2 separate regions of the Homo sapiens genome follow, and region 2 is linked to region 1. Evidence: fine-mapped expression QTL. A gene starts in region 1. The other region holds a variant in brackets. All regions are shown on one strand. Distances are between the middles of the regions.

Evidence for each region. PIP is the estimated chance that this variant, and not a neighbour inherited with it, causes the effect. A credible set is the group of variants that fine-mapping cannot tell apart.
Region 2: its variant is the best candidate, but not a certain one, in a credible set for the expression of ABHD1 in thyroid (GTEx, PIP 0.55).

Annotation. Positions count from the first base shown.
Region 1 is chr2:27,121,569-27,126,938 of GRCh38, forward strand. It overlaps ABHD1 (abhydrolase domain containing 1), which reads left to right and starts at 2,247. Exons shown (of 9, transcript NM_032604.4): 1 at 2,247-2,494. The coding sequence starts at 2,381. RefSeq lists silencers at 2,092-2,171, 2,192-2,331.
Region 2 is chr2:27,149,098-27,154,435 of GRCh38, forward strand. TCF23 (transcription factor 23) reads left to right here. Exons shown (of 3, transcript NM_175769.3): 1 at 1-258; 2 at 1,026-1,268; 3 at 3,591-5,338. The coding sequence starts at 37. The coding sequence ends at 3,770. Among named protein-coding and RNA genes, the nearest start is that of TCF23, 2.8 kb to the left of the region's middle. RefSeq lists an enhancer at 3,817-3,876. The variant C/T (reference allele first, on the strand shown) is at 2,298.

The sequences.
Region 1 (5,370 bases):
CAGATCAGAAGGGTTGGGGGTGAGGGTGATGGTTTTGGGATGAAACTTCCACCTCAGATCAACAGGCATTAGATTCTAATAAGGAGCACGCAACCTAGATCCTTCTTGTGTGCAGTTCACATAGGGTTTGCGCTCCTATGAGAATCTAATTCCACTGCTGATCTCAGGCAGTAATGCTTGCTCATCCTGCTCACCTTCTGCTATGCCACCTGGTTCCTACCAGGTCATGGACCAGTACCAATTTGCAGCCCAGGGGGTTGGGGACCCCTGGTTTAAGACACCCAGTTTGTAGTGCTTTCTTACAGCAAACTGCCAACTAATACACCACCTAAATGCTGATGATTGCCAATTCTCCACCTCCAATCTCTAAGCCCCAGGCCACTTCAGGCATTGAATATCCTACTAATTTGTGCCTGAGTTTTAATTTATAAAGGTGGCTGAGTGAGGACATGAAGAGGTCACTGCTATTGAAAGAAAAGCTTAATGTTATTTGCAGTTCCCCTAGAAACAAAAGGCACGGTCACAGGGGGAAGTGCCAGTGTCACTCAGGAGGCAGAAAGAAGCGAAGGGAAGGTACAGGCCTTTATTGGGGTTTACTTCTCCCAGTAAGGCAGGAGAAGCAGTTTGGGACTGGCTAGTTTGAATAATTCCAGAGTGCTCTGGGGCACAGGGACAGGTCCTGGTTACCTGGTCCTGGGTTGATTTAGGGCAGGGGAGATACTGGCTTGGAATGTGAAAGTTAGAGAAAGGAAGTGCTCAGAGTGTGAGCTCTGGATTGTAGGGGAGATGTAAACAACCTTGGCCATTAGGTTGGCCCTGTGATTTATGGATGCCAAATAGACAAATACAGAACCTAAGGAAACACAGTTAAAACACCTACCAGCACCCCAACTTCTACATGTCTGTGTCTAAATGCATCATCTTCCTCTTCAAACCTTCCTCTCCTCTGTTTCCCTGTCCCAGGGATGGACACTTTATATCTGTGCAGTCAGAAACCTGGAGGTCATCCATGTTCCTCCTTCTTCCCCTGCCTCCAATCTACTACCAGGTCCTATCAATTCTGCCACTGATCTTGAAGATCTTCACTCCTCTCCTGGGTATCCTCCAGTCCGGGCATCTTTTGAGCCTGGCGTTCTGTTAGCAGCCTCCCAGTGGCCTCTCTGCTTCTACTTTCCTCCTCCTCCAATCTATTCTCCAAGCAACTGAATGATTCTCCTAAAACATAACTCATGTCACCCTTCCCTTCTTAAAACCCCTGGATGGCTTTCCTCTGACCCTAGGATAAACTGCAGCAATTATGTGGTCCTTGACCACCCACATGCTCCAGCCACACCAACTTTCTTTGTTCCCTTAAGACATCCTTCACCTCCAGGCTTTTGCCTTTGCTGCCCCCTCTGCTAGAACACCCTCGCGTGAAGTCCGGGCACCTCCGCAGTGCTCCCATGGCAGCTGGTACTTCTCTTGTGTGGACCATGTTAAGCCCTGATGACTTGTGGACCTCCTAGAAGCTTTACGGTGTATTGATACCTAGGCTCCTCTCCAGACTAACTGTATCGGGGGTAGGGCCTGGGCACTGGTAGTTTTAAAAATCCTAGATGATTCCGATCTGCAGTCAAGGTTGAAAGCCACTACTCTTAGTAGACGACCTCCTATATTTCAATGAAGACACGGACAGTAACATGGGGGGTCTGTATCAAGTGCCTGGTACAGGGCGGGTGGTGAGCAAATTATCTACTGTACGAGGACTGTGTGGCAGGGACTGTATGAGACAATGCAGAGTGACACTGCAGGAAGGTGCATGTGTTGCAATGCCACCACTGAGCAGCTGAAAGCTTTGTGACAGTGTGGGGTGTCACAGTCGGACAGTGACTGGTGAGGGTCACTGTGAATGGCTGTAGTGTGTGACAGAGCAGAATGTCACTGCAGGAGTAGCTGTGTCCTGTGCGTGACTGACTGCGAGCGCCTAAGGGACTCTGGCCAGGCTGCTGGACTCGGGGCGTCGCCGGGGAAGAGTTTAAGGGAGCTGGAGATGCCCCGCACCAAGATGGCAGCTGGGGGAGGCCGCTTGTCTCGGGCTGCACAGCCAAGAACCGCGGAGGGGAAGAAGGCAGGGGAGGGCGGGAGGCCATTCGCAGGTCACTCGGGTTAGATCCGCGCGAGGCACTAGGCGACCAGCCACCCAGCCCCGCGACCAACTAGCGCCGCCTCTCGCCGCCCATCCCGGGGCACCGGCGGTGGGCGGGGCCAGCAGCGCAAACTGCCTGCAGCGGGGACCGGACCTGCACAGGCCGCCTATGGCGGGCGGCGGGTGGGACCGCGAGTTACAGCCGGCCAACTGGGGCCAGCCAGGAGCCTGAGGGTCGGAAGCCCCCAACACAAGATGCTGAGCTCCTTCCTGAGCCCCCAGAATGGCACCTGGGCAGACACCTTCTCTCTGCTCTTGGCTCTTGCCGTTGCCCTCTACTTGGGCTACTACTGGGCATGTGTGCTTCAGGTGGGTGCGGGTCCACCGCTCTGGCCAGCGGGTTTGGGTGTAGGGGGCAGCTTCCAGACACGGGCTTGGGCCCTTGGTGGGAACTGGGATGGTTGGGCTTCCCCACAGGTGAAATTTGCTACCACCGAATGGAGAGTCGGCTCTGCCTCTCTAGTGCCTCTGCATCCCATGTGATCCCCATGCCAGCTGGGCCTTTTGGGTACCGGAGGGTGCTGCTCCCTATAATGTGGACAAGCATTTGGGGAAAGGTGGGGTGGAAGGCATCCTGAGGTATCAGAGATGTGCACACTTTGCGTTCCTTTTTAGGTGGTTTAGCTGAGTCTTTCAGCTGCACTGAAGGAAGGAACCAGAGGTCTGTGGGTCATGGCTAACTCCCAATACCACCCACCCCCCAAATAGCTTAGTAGGACCTCCCTTCCCTTAAGGGCTGGCTGAGGTCAGAACTGGCCTAGCTCAGAACTGATGGATGACCCCAACTGTCCTTGCTCATTCAGCCGTTTTATGTTCCAGGCTCTCCATATAGTGAGTGTGATGAGAAAGTTTGAAGAGGTTGATTTTGATGAATTTGGAGACTTTTCTCACTGAAATTTAGATATATACATAATTTACATATCCAGGAAAAGCCAAATCTCTTCATCTTCATTAAACTCTGTTCTAGGTAGCTGAGTCTAACAAGACACCTACTGGTTCGAGTCCTTTAAAAAGGTCTATAGGAGACTTTAGTGTTACCTAGACTTTTCCATATTTTCAGAGCTTTCTACATTAGCATATATTGTTTACTAAATGTCTTCCTTAGGGCCGGGTGTGGTGGCTCACGCCTGTAATCCCAACACTTTGGGAGGCAGAGGCGGGAGGATCGCCTGAGGTCGGGAGTTCGAGAGCAGCCTGACCAACATGAAGAAACCCCATCTCTACTAAAAATACAAAAATTAGCCAGGCATGGTGGCACATGCCTATAATCCCAGCTACTCGGGAGCCTGAGGCAGGAGAATCACTTGAACCTGGGAGGCGGAGGTTGCAATGAGCCTCGTGCCATTGCACTCCAGCCTGAGCAACAAGAGTGAAACTCCGTCTCAAAAAAAAAAAAAAAAGTCTTCCTTAATAAAACAGTTAAAAACTCCAAGCCTCACAATACTCTGTAGGCCTCACTTTATACATCAGATTTGGAAGGTCACTTCAGAACAAAACTGCCCCTAAGGAAACACTTTCCTTTACTTGCAACTAGCTGCACAGAAATCTGGGCCCCTGCTGCTTTATAGACTAAACCCTTTATAAGCTAACGAATACTGGTTAAAATGCAGGAAAAGTGCCATTCTGGAGGCCCTCTAGATACGGTGTTTGGATTGGCCAGCACTGTAATGGATCTATACTGATTTAAGCATAGCAACCAGTGCCATATTGTAATACTAATTCATTCTCAGGAGGGAGTCAAGAAACATTTTCTTGAGTTAAAATCAAATTAACCCACATAAATCAAACCTGTGAACAAATTTATAAGTCTTGTTCCACACTACTGGGCCGTTTGACCAAGGAATTAATAAACTGATAGTAACTCAGCCGAGCACAGTGGCTCATGCCTGTAATCCCAGCATTTTGGGAGGCTGAGGCGGGCGAATCACTTGATGTCAGGAGTTCGAGACCCGCCTGGCCAACATGGTGAAACCCCTATCTCTACTAAAAATACAAAAATTAGTTGGGTGTGGTGACGCAAGCCTGTCATCCCAGCCACTCAGGAGGCTGAGGCAGGAGAATCGCTTGAACCCAGGAGGCGGAGGTTGCGGTGAGCTGAGATGGCACCACTGCACTCCAGCCTGGGTGTCAGAGCAAAACTCCGTCTCAAAAAAAAAAAAAAAAAAAGGATAGCAACTCAAAATCTTGGCAATTAGGAGGCAATACCCGACAGTGACTAGACAGCGCAGGCTCTAGAGTCAGACAGACCTGGGTTTGAATCTCCTGCTCTGCCACTAACTAGCTCTGGCAAGCTTCTGGCCCTTGACAAGTTATTCAGCATTCAAATCCGTTCACATAGGGGGATCACAGAACCTATTTCATGGAACTGTTATGAAAATCACAAGACAAAATTTGTGTGAAGTGCTTAGCAGAATGCCTGGAGCTTAATGAGAACTCAACAAATCTTACCTACAAGTACTGGTGGTAATGTCATAGTTAATAATTTTGTTTTGCCTCTTGCTTGCTGTGTAACTGGACAAACCACTTAATCTCTGTCAGTCATAACTTCTTCACTTATAAAATATCTCATAAGTTTGGGCTTAGCCCAGTGCCTTCACACGACTGACAGCTGTCGTAATTCCAGGGCTTAAGGACTAGGGTCCAAAGTCACATCTCCCAACAGTTGCACTATCGACTTGGCATCTCTACCATTTGCCCCTGTAGACTATAGGAACTGTACTGGAGATAGAAATCTGGTCCTCATGTTCCTTAGGGCCCACTGCGGATATGCAGTTTCTATTCTTGAACCTATGGCATACTCCTCCTTCACATGCCTTCCACGTGGCTAGGCTCTCTCATTCACTTGATGTCTGTCCAGAACACAGCAGAGAAGCTGAAAGTCAGGGCTTAGTGCCCACTGACCTCATCTGTCCCTGTTATTTCATCCTTGTCACCTTCCCCCTAGCTGGCATGAAGGAAGAAAAAAATCGATTCACATTAGGGCTGTTCTTCCTTTAGAGCACAATCTAACAGCAGGGGCCCCACAAGTAAGAGAAGATAAGGTCCCCGGTAGAAAGAAGCCCCTTAGGCCAGACGCAGTGGCTTACACCTGTAATCCCAGCACTTTGGGAGGCCGAGGTGGGCGGATCACGAGGTCAGGAGATCGAGACCATCCTGGCTAACACAGTGAAACCCCATCTTTACTA
Region 2 (5,338 bases), 28 kb after region 1:
TTTCTGCTCTGTGGGCTGCAGCCCCAGTGGGGTGGCATGTCACAGAGGAAGGCCAGAGGGCCACCAGCCATGCCAGGGGTGGGGCATAGCCAGACTCAGGCCAAAGCACGGTTGCTGCCAGGCGCTGACAGGAAGAGGAGCCGCCTCAGCAGGACAAGGCAGGACCCGTGGGAAGAAAGAAGCTGGAGCAACCAGAGATGGAGCAGAGCTACCCCTGGCCCTCGAGGGACCAGGGCTGGGGGCCTGGCTCTTGGCAGGGTAAGGAAATCCTGCACCTGCAGAGGGGTCCAGGGGAGGAAGGGGTTGGAAGGTGGGGAGATGTCACCTCTGATGGTACAGCCTCACTCAGTATTACCATTCCTGCCCAAGAGAGGGGACACTGGCCCCTTAGACTCCAAGGCATCATGCTTTGGGTAGTTGGGATAGATCAGAGCTGGTCTTAACCAGAGTGCAGCTCAGAGAGCTGCACTAACTCACTTCTCTTGAGGAAACTGAGGCCGGGAAGAGGGATGTGAATTTCCCAAGGTCACTGAGCAGCAGCCAGTGGTAGGACTGGGACTTCAGCCTGTGTGCTTTGACCCCTGGTTCTGTGTCTTTCCTCTTTCCCACAGCAGCCTCGTCGTCTCAGGACCTGGCTAGGTCAAGGGTCCGCCCTCCCAAACAGGGTGTAGCTCTGAACTCCCCCTGGCCCCAGCACACCCTGATAAGCAGGATTCAGATTGGGCATGGGACAGGACAAAGGCTCTGAGGAGGCATGAGTGGAGTAGTAGAGAGAACACAGGACTCTGGGTTCTGAGCCAAGCTCTGCCATCCTGCAGCCATCTGACCCCTGGCCAGGCCTTCCCCCAACTTCCTCAGCTGTGAAACGCGGCAGGGCTGCAGATGACGTAGGTGGGCAGAGGCCCTCTGGTGCCTACTGCTAGACACCCTTCTACTCTGGTGGGAGACCTTGTGCTCAAACGCTCTCAGAAGTCAGGGCAGTTGGGAGTCCAGGTCACACACACTCACTGGGGCCCTCTGTGCAGAGCGAGGCCAGTCCTGAGAATGCCGCGCGGGAGCGGAGCCGGGTCAGGACGCTGCGCCAGGCCTTCTTGGCCTTGCAGGCTGCTCTGCCTGCCGTGCCGCCCGACACCAAGCTCTCCAAGTTGGACGTGCTGGTGCTCGCCGCCAGCTACATAGCCCACCTCACCCGCACACTCGGCCACGAGTTGCCTGGCCCTGCCTGGCCGCCCTTCCTGCGTGGACTCCGCTACTTGCACCCTCTCAAGGTAAGTCACAAGCCCTGGGACTTGAGAGGCGGATCTTAATGCCCAGGGCCTTGGAGAAAGGGATTGGAATGAGGGGGGACATTGGACTTGGGCCCCCTGCCCTGTGCAGAACTGACGTCGGAGCCAATTTCTCCTGCTGTCTCAGAGGGAGAGGAGCCAAGGCTGACCCTTGGGGCTGCGCTGACCCTGGGTTTCTCATGGGAGTGTGGCTGGAAATGGCTTCATGGGAATGCACCTCCTTGAAGAGGAGGGAAAGACTCTGGGGTTCTTAGAGTCACAGGGAAAAATGTAGCAGGTTCCAAGTCTGGGGCCTGGGAAAGGAAATTATACCAAGGAGAGTCCTAGATCCCCATGCAGCTTCAGCCCATTGTGCCTGCCTTGGTGCTTTCTAGGCTTCTGTTGCAAGAGAGGTCTGTCCTCCAGGAGAACAACGGTCTGAGGGACCGTCATTCTAGAAGCAACCAAGCTGGGGGAGTTAGCAGGCAGCAGTACAGGGAAGGCGCGCACCACTTGCCAGACTGCAATCTAGCTTTTCTCAACCTCAGTTTTATTACACGTAAAATAGAAGCTAACATGAGCCTTACTTCTCTTCCAGAGTACAAAATGGAAAGTCTAATGAACATTAATCATCTTTGCAATAACAGCTAACAGTTGAGTGCTAAAGATAGGCCAGGAGCTGGGTTAAGTACGTTAGTGTATTTTTGTCTTTTAATCCATGCAAAAACCAAATGAGGATTACTTTACAGATGAGGAAACTGAAGCTTAGGGAGGTTATGAGGCTGAAAGCGGTTTGAACTCAGGGGTGTCTGACTTCAGACCCTAAGCTCATAGCCACTAAACAGTCTCCAGGGACAGCGCCATAAGGAGCTGGTTGAAGAGTGCACTGTGTTAAAAAGGAAGGGTCATCTTTGCCCTCTGAGGATAACATTGCAGTGGTATCAACTTTTTTATTTTATTATTTATTTATATATGTACTATTATTTTTTTGAGACAGAGTTTCACTCTGTCGCCCAGGCTGGAGTGCAGTGG[C/T]GCAATCTTGGCTCACTGCAACCTCCACCTCCCGGTTCAAGTGATTCTCCTCCCTCAGCCTCCCGAGTAGGTGGGATTATAGGCGTGCACCACCATGCCCGGCTAATTTTTCTATTTTTAGTAGAGATAGGGTTTCACCACTTTGGCCAGGTTGGTCTCAAACTCCCGACCTCAGATGATCCACCCACTACGGCCTCCCAAAGTGCTGGGATTACAGGTGTGAGCCACCACACCCAACTATTTATTTATTTACTTATTGTTGAGACAGGGTCTCACTGTCGCCCATGCTGGAGTGCAGTAGCGCAATCATAGCTTACTGTACCCTCAAACTCCTGGGCTCAAGGAATCCTCCCACCTCAGCTTCCCCAGTAGCTGGGACTACAGCCTTATGCCACCACACCTGGCTTTTTTTTTTCTTTTTTTTTTTGTAGAGACGGGGTCTCACTTTGTTCCACAGGCTTGTCTCAAACTCTAAGCTCAAGTGATCCTCTCACCTCTCAACTTTATTTTTATGATACTTTTCACCACCTCTTTCCCCTAAATGTCATAGTTCTGAAATGTCTTAAAACTTGGTTTTTTTCTTCAATGCAAATGTAGCTAAAATGTATAAATTTGAGACTAAGTGGGGAACTCTGAAATGTCAGTGGTGGTGCAGGGTCCTGGGATGATATAGTAGTTTCCTTCGCTGTAAAATAGTGACCAAGGCAAGGCCCTTGCTTGTAGTAGGTGATCAACAGCTATGCTGAAGAATGAACCAATGAGGGCCCGGTTAGGTCCAGCACTCCAGCACATCCACAGGGTGGGGCAGTTGGCCAGGAAGCAGCTCCCTCAGCTCCCAGGTGGAGAGGTTGTGAACAGGAGGGCGACCTCAGGGCAATCAACCTGGTGTATTCTGGGACTGCTCATGCTCCTGCTGGAAAGATGGGCAAACCTTGGAGGACCCAGCTTGGAGTTTTTCCTGGCTCTGCTGCTCTGCCCATTGCTCAGCCTCTGGCTGTTGCCAGCTCTGCCCAGGCCAGCTGATCTTCTGTCCACCTCCCTCCCAACAGAGCGCTGCTCTTCTTGGGGCCCTCTCCCTCCTCAGATGGCTCCTCCTGTGTCTCTCATCCAGGCTCTGGGTGATCAGGAGAATGTGTGGGGCTGTACATGATGATGACCCTGATCAGAGCAGTGATGGCTGGGGAAGGTGTCAGGGAGGGATGCTGGAGAAGGCTGGGTTTTGGGTGTCAAGGATCCTGGACCACGAAGGGCTGCAATAGCAGCATTTCTCACTTCCCAATCTGTGTCTTGCAGAAGTGGCCGATGCGATCTCGTCTCTATGCTGGAGGCCTGGGGTACTCCGATCTTGACTCCACCACAGCCAGCACCCCCAGCCAAAGAACAAGAGATGCAGAGGTGGGGTCCCAAGTCCCTGGAGAGGCAGATGCTCTCCTTTCCACCACACCACTCTCACCAGCTCTTGGTGACAAATAATTATCACACTCGCCCTTTTCTCCTAGACTGTGACTCATGCTTATGGGCCTGGATTTTCTACCAGCCCCCAGATTCTCAGCCATCAGACTTGACTCAGACTCAGCTCCCAAGTTCCAGCATGCAGACCAAGAGAAGCAGTAGCACTTCTGTGATGGACAGTACCTAGAGGGGCACAGGTTGGAGAGCCTCCTCCTTGGTCCCCAGGAGGGGACTTCCCCATGGCTCTTCTGTGACAGCTACTGGGAAGTGGGAGAGAAAGAGGTATAATTGGGCTCAAAGTTGAGGTAGGGAACCACCCTAGCTTTCTTCCCCTAAGGTTTCTACAAACCCTCTGCAGATAGCAAAAAGGCAGGTGCAGAGGGAGGGGCCTGGGATGGCACCAGCCCCAGGTGCTGATGGGAAAGCCAGGTGGCCGGATAGGCTCCTGGTAGCTCCAAGTGTAAACAGATCTGGGCTGGGTCACACAGCCAGAGGGGAAACTGAAGAAGGAAATGTGCTTTCTAACTGCATCATGAGATGCTTACCTGATGTTAGAGAGATAGTGAGGAATTCAGGATTCCTCCCTCTGTAGTATGGGCCTTTCCAGAAGCTGCCCCTCACCACTACATTTTCTCTCCCTCTCGGCTCCTGCACTCTTCCACTCTTTTCTTTTCTTTTCTTTTCTTTTCGTTTCTTCTTCTTTTTATGTAGAGATGGGGGTCTTGATATGTTGCCCAGGCTGGCCTCGAACCCCTGGCCTCAAGTGATCCTCCCACCTCAGCCTCCTAAAGTGCTGGGATTACAGGCATGAGCCACCATGCCCAACCCCACTGTTTTCTTGACATGAGTTATATCTACAGGTTAAGCCATACATCTTGCATTGCTTACATTCCAGTTTCCAGAGAAACTTTTAGATAGTCCCAGATGCCTAGTTTGAGATCTTAACCAGAAGCAATTCTACCTTAATTGAACCAAGCAGCAACTTATGGCCTTAAATATGAAGGATATTGACAGAATCAATTACATCCTTGAAGGACCTTAAGAGAAGATCAGGTATATAGGGGGTGATCATTACAGTCTTCTCTTTCCATTATGTTAGAAACCTGCCCTCAAGCAAAAACAAGATAGGCCTGCCTTCAACTGCTCAACCACTCAATTGGCTCCTTGTAAAATTTGTGTTCGAGGCTTCCCTGGCTCTGGAGTTATTTCTATAGTCTATTAGCTCCCTAGGGCCGGCTCCGCCTCATGGAGATCGTCCTTGGGGGCTTTCTCTAAGTCCTACCATGGGGTGCCAGAAATGTGATATAGCTTCGGTGAAACTCATCTCTGGCCCTAAAGAAATAACTTGAGGACTAATCATAGAATCTACACACACTGAAAATAACTTTCCAGATCGGATGTAGCCTCAAACCTGGCACCTGAAGTCCAGATGGAACAAATTACCTTTCGGTTAAATTTCAGCCCTTCAGAGTGGGAGGGGACGGGCATGACCAACTAGAGTCCCAACAAGGTTATCCTTAGACACACACCATTGTTGTTATCATGAATGTAAGTGAGCTCTGGGCAGGCTGGGAATGGTTGGGGTCTGG